Linked DNA regions of Homo sapiens. The protein of the gene in region 2 purifies or fractionates together with the protein of the main gene of each other region. This does not show direct contact. Each region holds a gene or a part of one and is shown on either strand. Other genes may lie near its edges. The genes, in order: IRF2, IRF8 and MYH14.

The links.
Region 1: the proteins of IRF8 (region 2) and IRF2 purify together in Homo sapiens (affinity purification with western blotting, with the first as the bait; one study listed by BioGRID). This does not show direct contact.
Region 3: the proteins of IRF8 (region 2) and MYH14 purify together in Homo sapiens (affinity purification with mass spectrometry; one large-scale study listed by BioGRID and IntAct). This does not show direct contact.

The regions. Positions count from the first base shown.
Region 1 is NC_000004.12:184,391,040-184,394,765, reverse strand, and holds part of IRF2 (interferon regulatory factor 2), read left to right. Parts: intron 1-3,726. UniProt on the Homo sapiens protein: Specifically binds to the upstream regulatory region of type I IFN and IFN-inducible MHC class I genes (the interferon consensus sequence (ICS)) and represses those genes. Also acts as an activator for several genes including H4 and IL7.
Region 2 is NC_000016.10:85,905,662-85,909,161, reverse strand, and holds part of IRF8 (interferon regulatory factor 8), read right to left. Parts: intron 173-3,500; coding exon 1-172. UniProt on the Homo sapiens protein: Transcription factor that specifically binds to the upstream regulatory region of type I interferon (IFN) and IFN-inducible MHC class I genes (the interferon consensus sequence (ICS)). Can both act as a transcriptional activator or repressor.
Region 3 is NC_000019.10:50,210,044-50,213,769, forward strand, and holds part of MYH14 (myosin-14), read left to right. Parts: intron 1-319; 5' UTR 320-322; coding exon 323-727; intron 728-3,726. UniProt on the Homo sapiens protein: Cellular myosin that appears to play a role in cytokinesis, cell shape, and specialized functions such as secretion and capping.

The DNA.
Region 1 (3,726 bases), on a different chromosome or scaffold from region 2:
TGGTTGATGGTTTAGTAGAAGAAAACCACAGTAGAATAATGGGGTGGGGGAGGATGGGTAAGAGGGGCTGGAGAGTAGACTCGAGAAGAAAACATCATCTGAAGGACTCACTGGCTATAATGAGAGAGTGGAGATCGCCTGCTGACCAGCAGCCATCAGTAAAGGCTTTGAATCCTTCGGGAAACCACACCAGGCTTGCATTTTGTTGGGCAGAGCAAAGACACAATCGCTTTGAGATTAAGAGGATTCCGATTTGAAAATAATTTACTCCTGGTGAAAGTAATTGAGAATATGATCAATAGAAAGAAATTCAAATCAAACTTGCTGAACAAGAGCCTTCCAGAAAGTGTAGCAGAATGTCAGAGTGCAAAAAGCCTTTCAGGTGAAAATGCATCCTCTCCCTTCCCGCAGTGTTCCTGCTTAGACAATATGTATATCCTCAGCGAGGCGTTAAAAACTGGACTGGATAGAGAGTGAACCTACAACCAGTGTCACCCTAGAACTGGAAGAGCTTTTGAGATCATCTAATCCAAATCCTCCCCTTCCCTCCCACCCTAGATGCTTTCAGGAAAACTGAGACCAGAAAGGTTAAGTGAATTACTCATGTGCCTGTTGGTACTGTACGAACACCTTCAGCTTCTTCATTTGTTTGGAGTTGCTGGAGAAGCAACTCCAGACTTCTTTATTCCATTGTATTCGAAGTAAGTAATAAACAAAAAGCAAAAACAAATTCAAACTAATCAAAAGGGAAAATGAAATGACAACGTATGTTGATAGTTCGATAGTAACACTGATCTGGAGGCCCAGCTGCAGTCAGCTCCCTTGTGTAAGAAGTCAGCGTGGAAGTGGCAATGGTGGTCAAACCAAGGAAACAGAGGACACGGGGCGCAGTGCATCCAACAAAGCACTTGGAGCCACCGATTCTGGGGTCACAGAGAGAACTGCTCCCCTCAGGGGGAGGTTCAGGGTTCTCTGCTCCTAAGCTAAGGTACTGAAGGCCCCTTTTTGAAACTGTCAGTGTCCTAATAGGGCGCATCTTCCTGACGACTTCAGATGCTGTGGAACTTAATCTAGACACGACGCTCTTTAACTCGCATTTGTGTCAGCTGAAAACATAAGTTCGGAGCATGTGTATCTTTTCTTATCTGCAGCTATTTCCCCGAAGCTGAAAACTGGGTACTTAAAGGAAGTTAGCATCCCGGTCACATTCATGGGCGGTGCAAGGTCTTACCCGGGAGCCTTACCCCAGGATCTGACTTCCAGCCCCTCCTGCACCTGCGACTGGGGCTGTGCTGGAATCCCAGCCCCCAAAGCATGCTTGGTTGCGTATCTTTGTTTGTATTTGGAGGGGAAAGGAAAAGAAGACAGTGATATTTATGGAGAGTCATTAGGAGTGAAGAGCATCTGAACCCGTATGAAAGGAAGAGAAAGCTTGGCTTTGGAGCACAAAGAAAGCTAAGCATAAAATGGAAAGCGGATCTTGAAATGTTGTCAGAGACCAGAACACCAGGGAAGCAGGGCTGCTGTGTGCAGTGCACAGGCCCTGGAATCAGAAGTACAGTTTTGTTTTCTCTCCTCTGTGCTGTCTCAGTTGGCAACTTTGGCAAGTTTCTCAACATCTCTGTTCCTCATTTTTCTTCTTGGGAGTGGCTGTTCCGATTCCTGCCTCCTCAGGATACTGAGCCAGCACGAGGGTTCTCTGAGGAGGGGAATTTTCTTTTTCTGTTGGTTTTCATGTGTTTCTGCGTGGAAACAATTCTTGTGCTCGGCAACGTCAGCTCATCTTCATAGCTGGGATCGTCGTCAGCTGAGGCTGAGGGCTTCTCTGGGTCTCTGTGGCTCCCAGCACGGGGTGTTTTGGGGAAACATGCCCAGTCCGAGGAGTGGAGAGATCTGTCTTCTGCATGCTCATGGCCAGCCCACCGCGATCACTCAGGTTTGTGTGAAGTTACTGGAGAACAGTGGCTGAGAAACAGGCCCAGAGACTCCAGGCTGGGACCAGTGGAGTCCACATTCTTACTTTCCTTGTTTAAGGAATGCACCTGTGGCACAGTTTGTCCATTTGTTCTTTTGCCTTTAATTGATAGAGAGCCTGGTCTGGGGCTAATGCTCTCAGTGGAAGAAAGGGCTCTGTCTGGGCTGGAGCCATCTCATCCCAGCTCTGCCACCAGGAAGATGTGAGACAGAGGCCAGCCCCTCAGCAGGGACCGGGTGGAAAGCTGGAAGGCACTGGAGCATAAGAGCTCTTCTGCGTAACGGGGGATGAGAGCAGCTGCTTGCTGACGTGGGACCCCTGTGAGACCTGCATGCAAAGCCTCTGACATGGCACTGACCCATAGGGCTCCCTAAATGTTTGCTTCTTTTAGAACACGAGCTTCACTTTTGGATTTTCTTGTGTTGTGAAATATACGTCACCTAAAATTTACCATACTTTTGGGTATGGGGTTATTAAATTCAGCATTGGAACTAAATAGGAGGAAAGGCAGTTAAAGGTTGCCATCAGGAAGAGAAGCTATTGCAGTTACTCTTTAGGCCTTGTCTGTAAAACGAATGGCTCAGGCTAAGTGATCTCTAAATGCCTAAATATTGCACAGGCTCTGCCCTCTGTGATTGCATTTCTCAATGGTTATGGACACTGGAATAATCGCACACCATTGATATTTTATTTTACAAAATCAAAATGTTTTTACGTTTAAAAAGCTTTTTATAAGCATAGGTCATGTGTAATCACTAGACTTCGATTCCATTAATCCAGCCTGTTGTGCAAACCCAGTGTTAAGCAGTGCTGATGTATGGAGTGTGTGCTGTGTGCCAGGCCCTTGCTAGGCCTTTCCCATGTACCCTCTCACTCACTCTCCATGTAATCCTCTTAGATGGTGGCAGTGCCCTCATTTTACAGAGGAGAAAACTGCAGCTCAGTAAAGGTGAGAAACTTGCCCAGTGTCTCACAGCTGGCAGGCCAAATGGGGATGGCAACTGATTGGCTGCCATAGCCATGCAGCCACAAACTTAGTGGCTTGAAGCGACACACATTTGGATCTTACAGTTTCTTTGAGTCACGAATCCAGGCGTGGCTTAGCTGGGTCCTCTGCTGCAGAGTCTTGCAAACCTGCCATGGAGGTGTTGGCTACAGCTGCTGTCTCATCTGAGGCTCAACTGGGGAAGGGTCCATTTCCAAGCTCATGTGGTTTTGGCAAAATTAAGTTTCTTGCAGGTTGTTGGACTAAGGGCCTCAGTCTCTTGCTGGCTGTTGGCTGGAAGCAGTCCTTAGTTCTTTGCCATAGGAGCCTTCCCAACATGGTTGCTTGCTTTATCAAGGCCAGCAAGGCAGAGTGTTTCCTCTCCCAGCAGGTTTCTGAGTTATGTAACATGATCATGGACACAGGATCACATCCATTTCATCCCCTTTGCTGTATCTTATTTGTTAGAAGCAGACACATTCCATCCACACTCAAGGGAGGCAATCCCAAAGAAAGTGAATCCAAGGAGGTGAGGATCATGGGGAGCACCCCAGATCTGTCCACCTACAGTAACCCACATGGCAGATGCAACTCTAGAAATCCAGGATCTAAGTCCTAAAGGGGTGAGAGGTAAAGGAAGGATCTGAGTGGGATGGGGATAATGTAGGAAGACCTTTTGGAAACGGTCAACTCTGCACTGGGAATTAAATGAATTGGTTGGCATGGATTGAAAGACAGGACCCATGTGGGCATTGTGGACAGAGCT
Region 2 (3,500 bases):
CCTCAGGAACAATTCGGTAAACTTTGTATGGCTCGGAAATGTCCAGTTGGGACCGGTCCGTCACTTCCTCAAAATCTGGGCTCTTATTCAAAGCACAGCGTAACCTCGTCTTCCAAGTGGCTGGTTCAGCTTTGTCCCCTTCTTTAAACTTCCCTTTAAAAACTGCCCAGGCCTGAAGAAAGAAACAGAAGCACATTAAATTCATGGCCGACTCCAATCACAAATATCCGTCACCATGACCAGGACCCCACACATCCTTCCCTTCCCATGAATCTTTGTTGGCCATCAACTCTCATTCAATTTCAGGACCCAAAGAGACTCCAATCAGATGTCTTGAGTCTTTTCACATCTGGGGACCAGATGTGGAAAGACCCAAGCCAGGGAGGGGGTCCCCCAGGTTCATACAGCTGAGTCAGAAGTCGAACCCAGGCTGAAGGCTCCTCCAACCCTGGAGTGCACCTTTTAGCCAAGCCCTTGCCTGGCTGAAGAGCTGGAGACACCTGAGGTTTACACAGCACAAAGAGGAAGTTGCATATGGTTTCACCAGAGCGTTCAAAACAAAGAACAAGTTGTTGCTTTTTCAGATCAACCCCTAAAATTTAGCATGAAAAGGGAACATTTGCAAAAAGTCAAAATGGTCATCCATCGCCCTGTTACTTTTAATAGAAATTTTGTTTTGCATTTTTGCATTTATTCTAGACTTTTCCCCCCAGGTGCTGTTTAAAATGTAATGAAGTACTTTCCCTTTAATGTGTGTGTGTTTTTTTTAATAGATCTGTTTTCTGACTTTTCCAAACCTTAGGATCTGAACTAGGACCAGAAATTCAAAGCTGAAATCTTAAAGTCATAATGTAGAATGGGGCAGTACAGATTTTAAAAAAATAAGACAGGTGAATGGACAGATTTTAAGCTTGCAAAATTGGAATACAGACACACCAACTAGGAGGTAACCACAGTCAGATGAGAATTATCTTCGGTTTCAGGAAAAATCAGGCAGTGTCCTCCAGCCTAAAATGATAGGAGATCTGTAGGGACATCCCGATCCCATTCAGGAAAATGCAATTCCAAGAGGTAAGTAACTTTCGCAAGGTCACCCAGTCTGGGATTAAATGCCAGCTGTACCCACTTCAGGAAAATGCAATTCCAAGAGGTAAGTAACTTTCCCAAGGCCACCCAGTCTGGGATTAAATGCCAGCTGTACCCACTTCAGGAAAATGCAATTCCAAGAGGTAAGTAACTTTCCCAAGGCCACCCAGTCTGGGATTAAATGCCAGCTGTACCCACTTCCAACCCAACAGTTTCCCCACCACAGCAAGTGTTCTCAGGCTTAATGCATATACCAACCCCCTGCCCCTGGGAAGCTTGTGAAAATGCAGATTCCTGGGCCTTGCCCCTCAAGATTCTCACTGGGGAAGGGAGGTTGGGTCTCGGTAGCTGTCTTTTTTTATTTTTTATTTTTATTTATTTTAGTTTTTTTATTTTTTTGAGACGGAGTCTCACTCTGTCACCAGTCTGGAATGCAGTGGCGCAATCTGGCTCACTGCAACCTCCACCTACCAGGTTCAAGCGAATCCTCCTACCTCAGCCTCCCAAGTAGCTGGGACTACAGGTGTGCACCACCATACCCAGCTAATTTTTGTATTTTTAGTACAGACGAGGTTTCACCATGTTGGCCAGGATGGTCTTGATCTCTTGACCTCGTGATCCGCCTGCCTCGGCCTCCCAAAGTGCTGGGCTTACAGGCGTGAGCCACCGCGCCCGGCCCAGGTAGCTGTCTTTAGCCAGTATTCCAGGGATTTGGATTTAGCTACCCAGGAGACCACACTTCCAGAAACTCCATCATGCCCCCATGAGTCACAGCTCCTTTAAAATAGCCCAGACTGTTTTTCCTCTCAAAAAAGACAAGAATGCTTACTGTTCAAGGCCAATGCTGCCTACTTTGTTGATGCAAAATGTTGCACCTCTACCTGGGGTAAAGAGACTGGAAGAACATTCCCATTAGTGAGCATAAGTGGTAGTTTCCTCATGTGACATTGATGTAAAACTCCCCTCTAAAACTATTTCTTAAAGCACACGGTCTTTAATGCTCTCTTCATTGACTGCATCACTGACCGGGCATTAATTTGGGTTTTGTTGCTGTTGTTTATTTTTAAAGAAATAAACCAGCAAACCATGTACTAAATCAACTGTAGTTTCAAATTTTTATTACTTTAAATCAGGGTTTCCCCACCGTGGCAAGCCTGACATATCAGCTGGGACCCTTCTTTGTGGCGGGGTGGTCCTGTGGATTGTAGAATATTCAGCGGCATCCCTAGCCTTGACCCACCAGATGCCAATAGCACCCCTCCCCTAGCTGTGACAACCAAAAAAGGTCTCCAAACATGGCCAAGTATTCCCTGGAGGGTAAATCATGATACCTCCCCCACCTGAGAACCACTGAGTTAACCCACATCCCAAACGGGCCTTGAAATGCACAGATTTCATGGCAACGTTGTGATCCGCTGGTACACATACGCAACCGCGGTGCCTGCAAGGCACTGCCATACTCACTCGTTCACGCCAAGCTCACACTCACCCCACGAGCAAGTCCAGGCCACATCATCCATCACAGCAGGGCCCACGGCCAGGAAGCATCCAGGGCCACCATCGGGTACCTGGCTTGCCGCCTGCCCTGAACTCTGTGACACAGCAGGCACCTGGCCCTCTCCCAGCCTCTCTGGCCAGCATTAAAAGGTCAACTTAGCTTGATGATCTCTCGAGATCCTTCTTGAGCTAGAGCAAAAACTAGACATGAGAGTGATTTCAGGGCCCCCCCACCCCTGCCGCCAGCAACAGTCACTATGGCTCATTCAGCCTCCACCATAACTTATTTCTCCTGTTGACGCACAACTCAGGCTGACAGCACTGAACTAAGACCAGGAGGTCTTCCTAATTTAATATGATTGTTTCATGTTGCATTTTTTTAATTAAATGCTATTTTTCCCTTCAAGGCCTGCTGAATGAGAAATATCTGTGCTACTAAGTGAGCTTTAACTCATTCAGGACTGTTACGATGCCTGGAATAACCATGAATCATAATCCTCACTTAACTAGATTTTCCCCCCTTGTCGTCATGTCAAGAAGGTAAAGTACTTTTTAAAAATTAAATGAGTTGCTATCAGGGCCTCATCAGTGTACTCAGGGTCGGTACAAAATGAGCTCAATGTTTTTTCAATTTCTCTTCTGTGATCTATACCATGAGGCCGGCCTCAGGATGATGCCTGCAGACAATGAGGGATTTTCTGGTATAAGTGGCCCCTTTTACCATCCACTTATTACGGAAGAAACCAAACTCATAAATTTCTTTCTTAACTCCTAAATTGTTGAAAGGTTTTCTTTGAACAGTTGAAAGAAACAAGTGTCTACATAACCGGAAAATCCCTAAGATGGCTCTACCTGACCGAGGTTGACTTCATCCAACAGCCAAAGATCTATCCGGCCAACGTCACAGAGACAGGCCT
Region 3 (3,726 bases), on a different chromosome or scaffold from region 2:
GCTGAGATCACGCCATTGCACTCCAGCCTGGGCAACAAGCGAGACTCCGTCTCAAAAAAAAAAAAAAAAAAAAAAAAAAAAAAAAGAACTGACCCTCTGAGCCTGGTTCACAGCCTAGCTTATTAAAGAATGAATGAGTGCCTAGAGAGGTGAATGAATGAAATGAGTAAGCTGGGTCTGTTAACCCACTTTGCAGAAGTATGGCAAGAGGTCTGGTAAAGGAAGGCAGAGGTGGCTGCCTGGGGAATTTGGGGTAGGGAAGGGAGGCCCGGGGGACGGAGCCCCATCTGACCCCCACCCTCTTTCTTTGCCCCTGCAGACCATGGCAGCCGTGACCATGTCGGTGCCCGGGCGGAAGGCGCCCCCCAGGCCGGGCCCAGTGCCCGAGGCGGCCCAGCCGTTCCTGTTCACGCCCCGCGGGCCCAGCGCGGGTGGCGGGCCTGGCTCGGGCACCTCCCCGCAGGTGGAGTGGACGGCCCGGCGTCTCGTGTGGGTGCCTTCGGAGCTTCACGGGTTCGAGGCGGCGGCGCTGCGGGACGAAGGCGAGGAGGAGGCGGAGGTGGAGCTGGCGGAGAGCGGGAGGCGGCTGCGACTGCCGCGGGACCAGATCCAGCGCATGAACCCGCCCAAGTTCAGCAAGGCCGAGGACATGGCCGAGCTGACCTGCCTCAACGAGGCCTCGGTCCTGCACAACCTCCGGGAGCGGTACTACTCCGGCCTCATCTACGTGAGTGGGCTCCTGCTGGGGGGCGCGTGCGGCGGAGTTGCTGCCGGTTGGGGAACCAGGTCCACCACCCGGCTCCCCTGCATTAACTTGAGGCTGTTTATCATCTGTATCCCATGTCCCGTGACTGTTCCTACACTTACATGGTTGCCAAATTATGAATTGTTGGATTACTAGGACAGCCTCGGAACCTACTGGGGACATTGCATGATACATATGGTAGATAAACTGTATTATTTTCCTAAAGTATAAAACGTTCCAATTTCTCAGATATAGCTCATCCCGAGTTTTAAGGAACGGAAACAGATGTGTGACAATCATTAATGTGAATCACTGAGTATAGAAATGTGTTGCTTGAGGTTCAAGACCAGCCTGGGCAACAAAACGAGACCCTATCTCTTAAAAAAAGATAAATTAGCCAGGTGTGGTGGTGGCCCGTGCCTTTAGTCTCACCTTCTAGGAAGACTGAGGCAGGAGGATCACTTGAGCCCGGGAGGTCAAGGCTGCAGTGAGCTATGATGATACCACTGCACTCCAGCCTGGGTGACAGCACAAGACCCTGTCTCAAAAAAAGACAAAAAGCAAAAACCTTATGCTAGGCTCTGTGCTAAATGCCTATCTATTAATTCATTCAATCTCACCATAGGAAAGATAGAGTCTATTATTATTACCATTTTACCTAAGAGGCAAATGAGGCCCAGAGAGAGTTAATAACAATAAAAATGAACATTTATTAAACATTTACCAACCATTCTTCCAAGCTTTCTAAAATACATTGCCTCTGTACATTTTCAGAATTATAAAGCATCTGATCCTCATTTTACAGGTAAGAAAACTGAGGCACAGAGAGTTCAAGGTCACACAATTAGACCTGACAGAGCCAGGTAGTCTGTCTTCTCACTTTGCTGTGGTGCCTCTTAAGATTGAGATGGGGCTGGGAATGGTGGTTCATGCCTGTAATCTCAGTACTTTGAGAGGCTGAGGTGGGTGGATTGCTTGAGCCCAGGAGTTCGGGACCATCCTGGGCATGGCAAAACCCCATCCCTGCAAAAAAAAAAAAAATACAATAAATTAGCTGGGCATGGTGGCACACTCTTGTAGTCCCAGTTACTTGGGAGGCTGAGGTGGGAGAATCACCTGAGCCCTGAAGGTGGAGGCTGCAGTGAGCTGTGATGGCGCTACTGTACTCCAGCCTGGGTAACAAATCAAGACCCTGTCTCAAACAAAACGAAACAATACAAAAACCCATTGAGAAGAGATTGATGATACTTAGGTTGACTATGGTAGTCTTCCCACGTCTGTGCTAAGCATTGGAGGTTCGTTGCATTTTTAAAACTCTTTACAGCAAACGGATGGGGTAGAGCAGTGGTTCTTAACCCCACCTCTATGGTAGAATCATTTGGGGAATTCTTAGAAAATACCAGTGACGGAGCCCCACCCCAGAACTTTCAGTCGAGCTCTCTGGGGCTGTGACATGAACATTGGTATTTTTAATAAGCTTCCAAGGAGGTTCTAATGGGCAGCCAAGGGGTTATTAATTTCATTGAACAAAAGAGCAAACAGGATTAGAGAGATTGACAAGGAATATGGACAATCATAATGAAAAATAATAATAAGAGGAGGCTAGCAAATATTTAATCGAGCACTCGTGATGTGCCAAGCACTGTTCTAAGTGTGGCGTGTGAGTTATCAGCTTCCCTCTGGGCCAGGGACTGCTGATATCACCTGATGTTCAGGATGTTAAGTGACCCACAGCCATGAAGGAATCACGCCAGGATTTGAACCCAGGCAGCTGGTTCCAGAGTCATGCTCCAAACTCTAGCTTAGACTGGTGGGGTCTCACAGCTTTGCTCCAACATCCACCCCTCTGAGGTTCACAAAGCGGAAGATTAGAATATTTTTGTGAAGTCCCACTCCTACTTGGAGATCGAGGCTCTGAGATAAGCAGTGGCTGGCTCAGGGTCCCTCAGCTTGTGGTGGCAGGTGTGGAATTTGAATCGAGGGCTGTCGGACCCTGCATGGGGTTGGTGTCTTCTCCAGTCTGCACTGGCCCTTTCCAAATCCTCAAACACCTTTACTAGCCCTGGAAAAGAGGCCTCTACATGATCCACTCCCCCACATCTCACCCAAGGCCACAGACATCAGGATGACATCCAAAACATGGATCCACTAGTTGCCTTTTATTCATTTATATATATTTTTTGAGACAGGGTCTCACTCTGTTGCCCAGGCTGCAGTGCAGCAGCATGATCTTGGCTTACTGCAGCCTTCACCTCCTGGGATCAAGCAACTCTCTTGCCTCAGCCTCCTGAGTAGCTGGGACTACAGGCGCCTGCCACCAGGCCCAGCTAATTTTTGTATTTTTAGTAGAGTTGGGGTTTCACCATGTTTGTCAGAGCTCGAACCTCTGAGCTCAAGTGATCTGCCCAACTCAGCCTCTCAAAGTGCTGGGATTACAGGGGTGAGCCACTGCATCCGGCCACTCTTTGCCTTTTAATAAATACTCTGAGCGCTCCCAGCAACCTTGTAAGGTATCTGCTGTCATCCCCGCTCTGCAGGTGGGGAAGCTGAGCCTCAGACTAGGGGGCAGGATTTGAACATAAGCCCCACAACTAGGAACCAGCTAAGCTAGAACTTGAAACCAGGTCACTGTGACTGCAGACCCCAGGTCCTAGCCATTGCACTAGGAAGATTATTCAGAAAGTTCAGGAGAAAAAGTGGTAGGGCCTGAGCTAAGGTGGTGGCCAGGGAGCCAGACTTTTGGGGCCTAAGAAATGAATGTGAGAGAGAAGATTCTAGAATTCCAGACAGGAAGCACATTGGGCCTTAATAAAGATCATTAGCACTTAGTGAGTACCTGCTTTCTCTGCTGGGTGCTGTTCTAAATTTCTTTCCAATATGATCTTATTGACCCCCTCCCCATCCACATAAGGTTGTGAGGTAGGGATTATCACCCTCTTTTTCCCACAGCTTGGAGAGGGGAAGCCATTTGCCCAACAGAA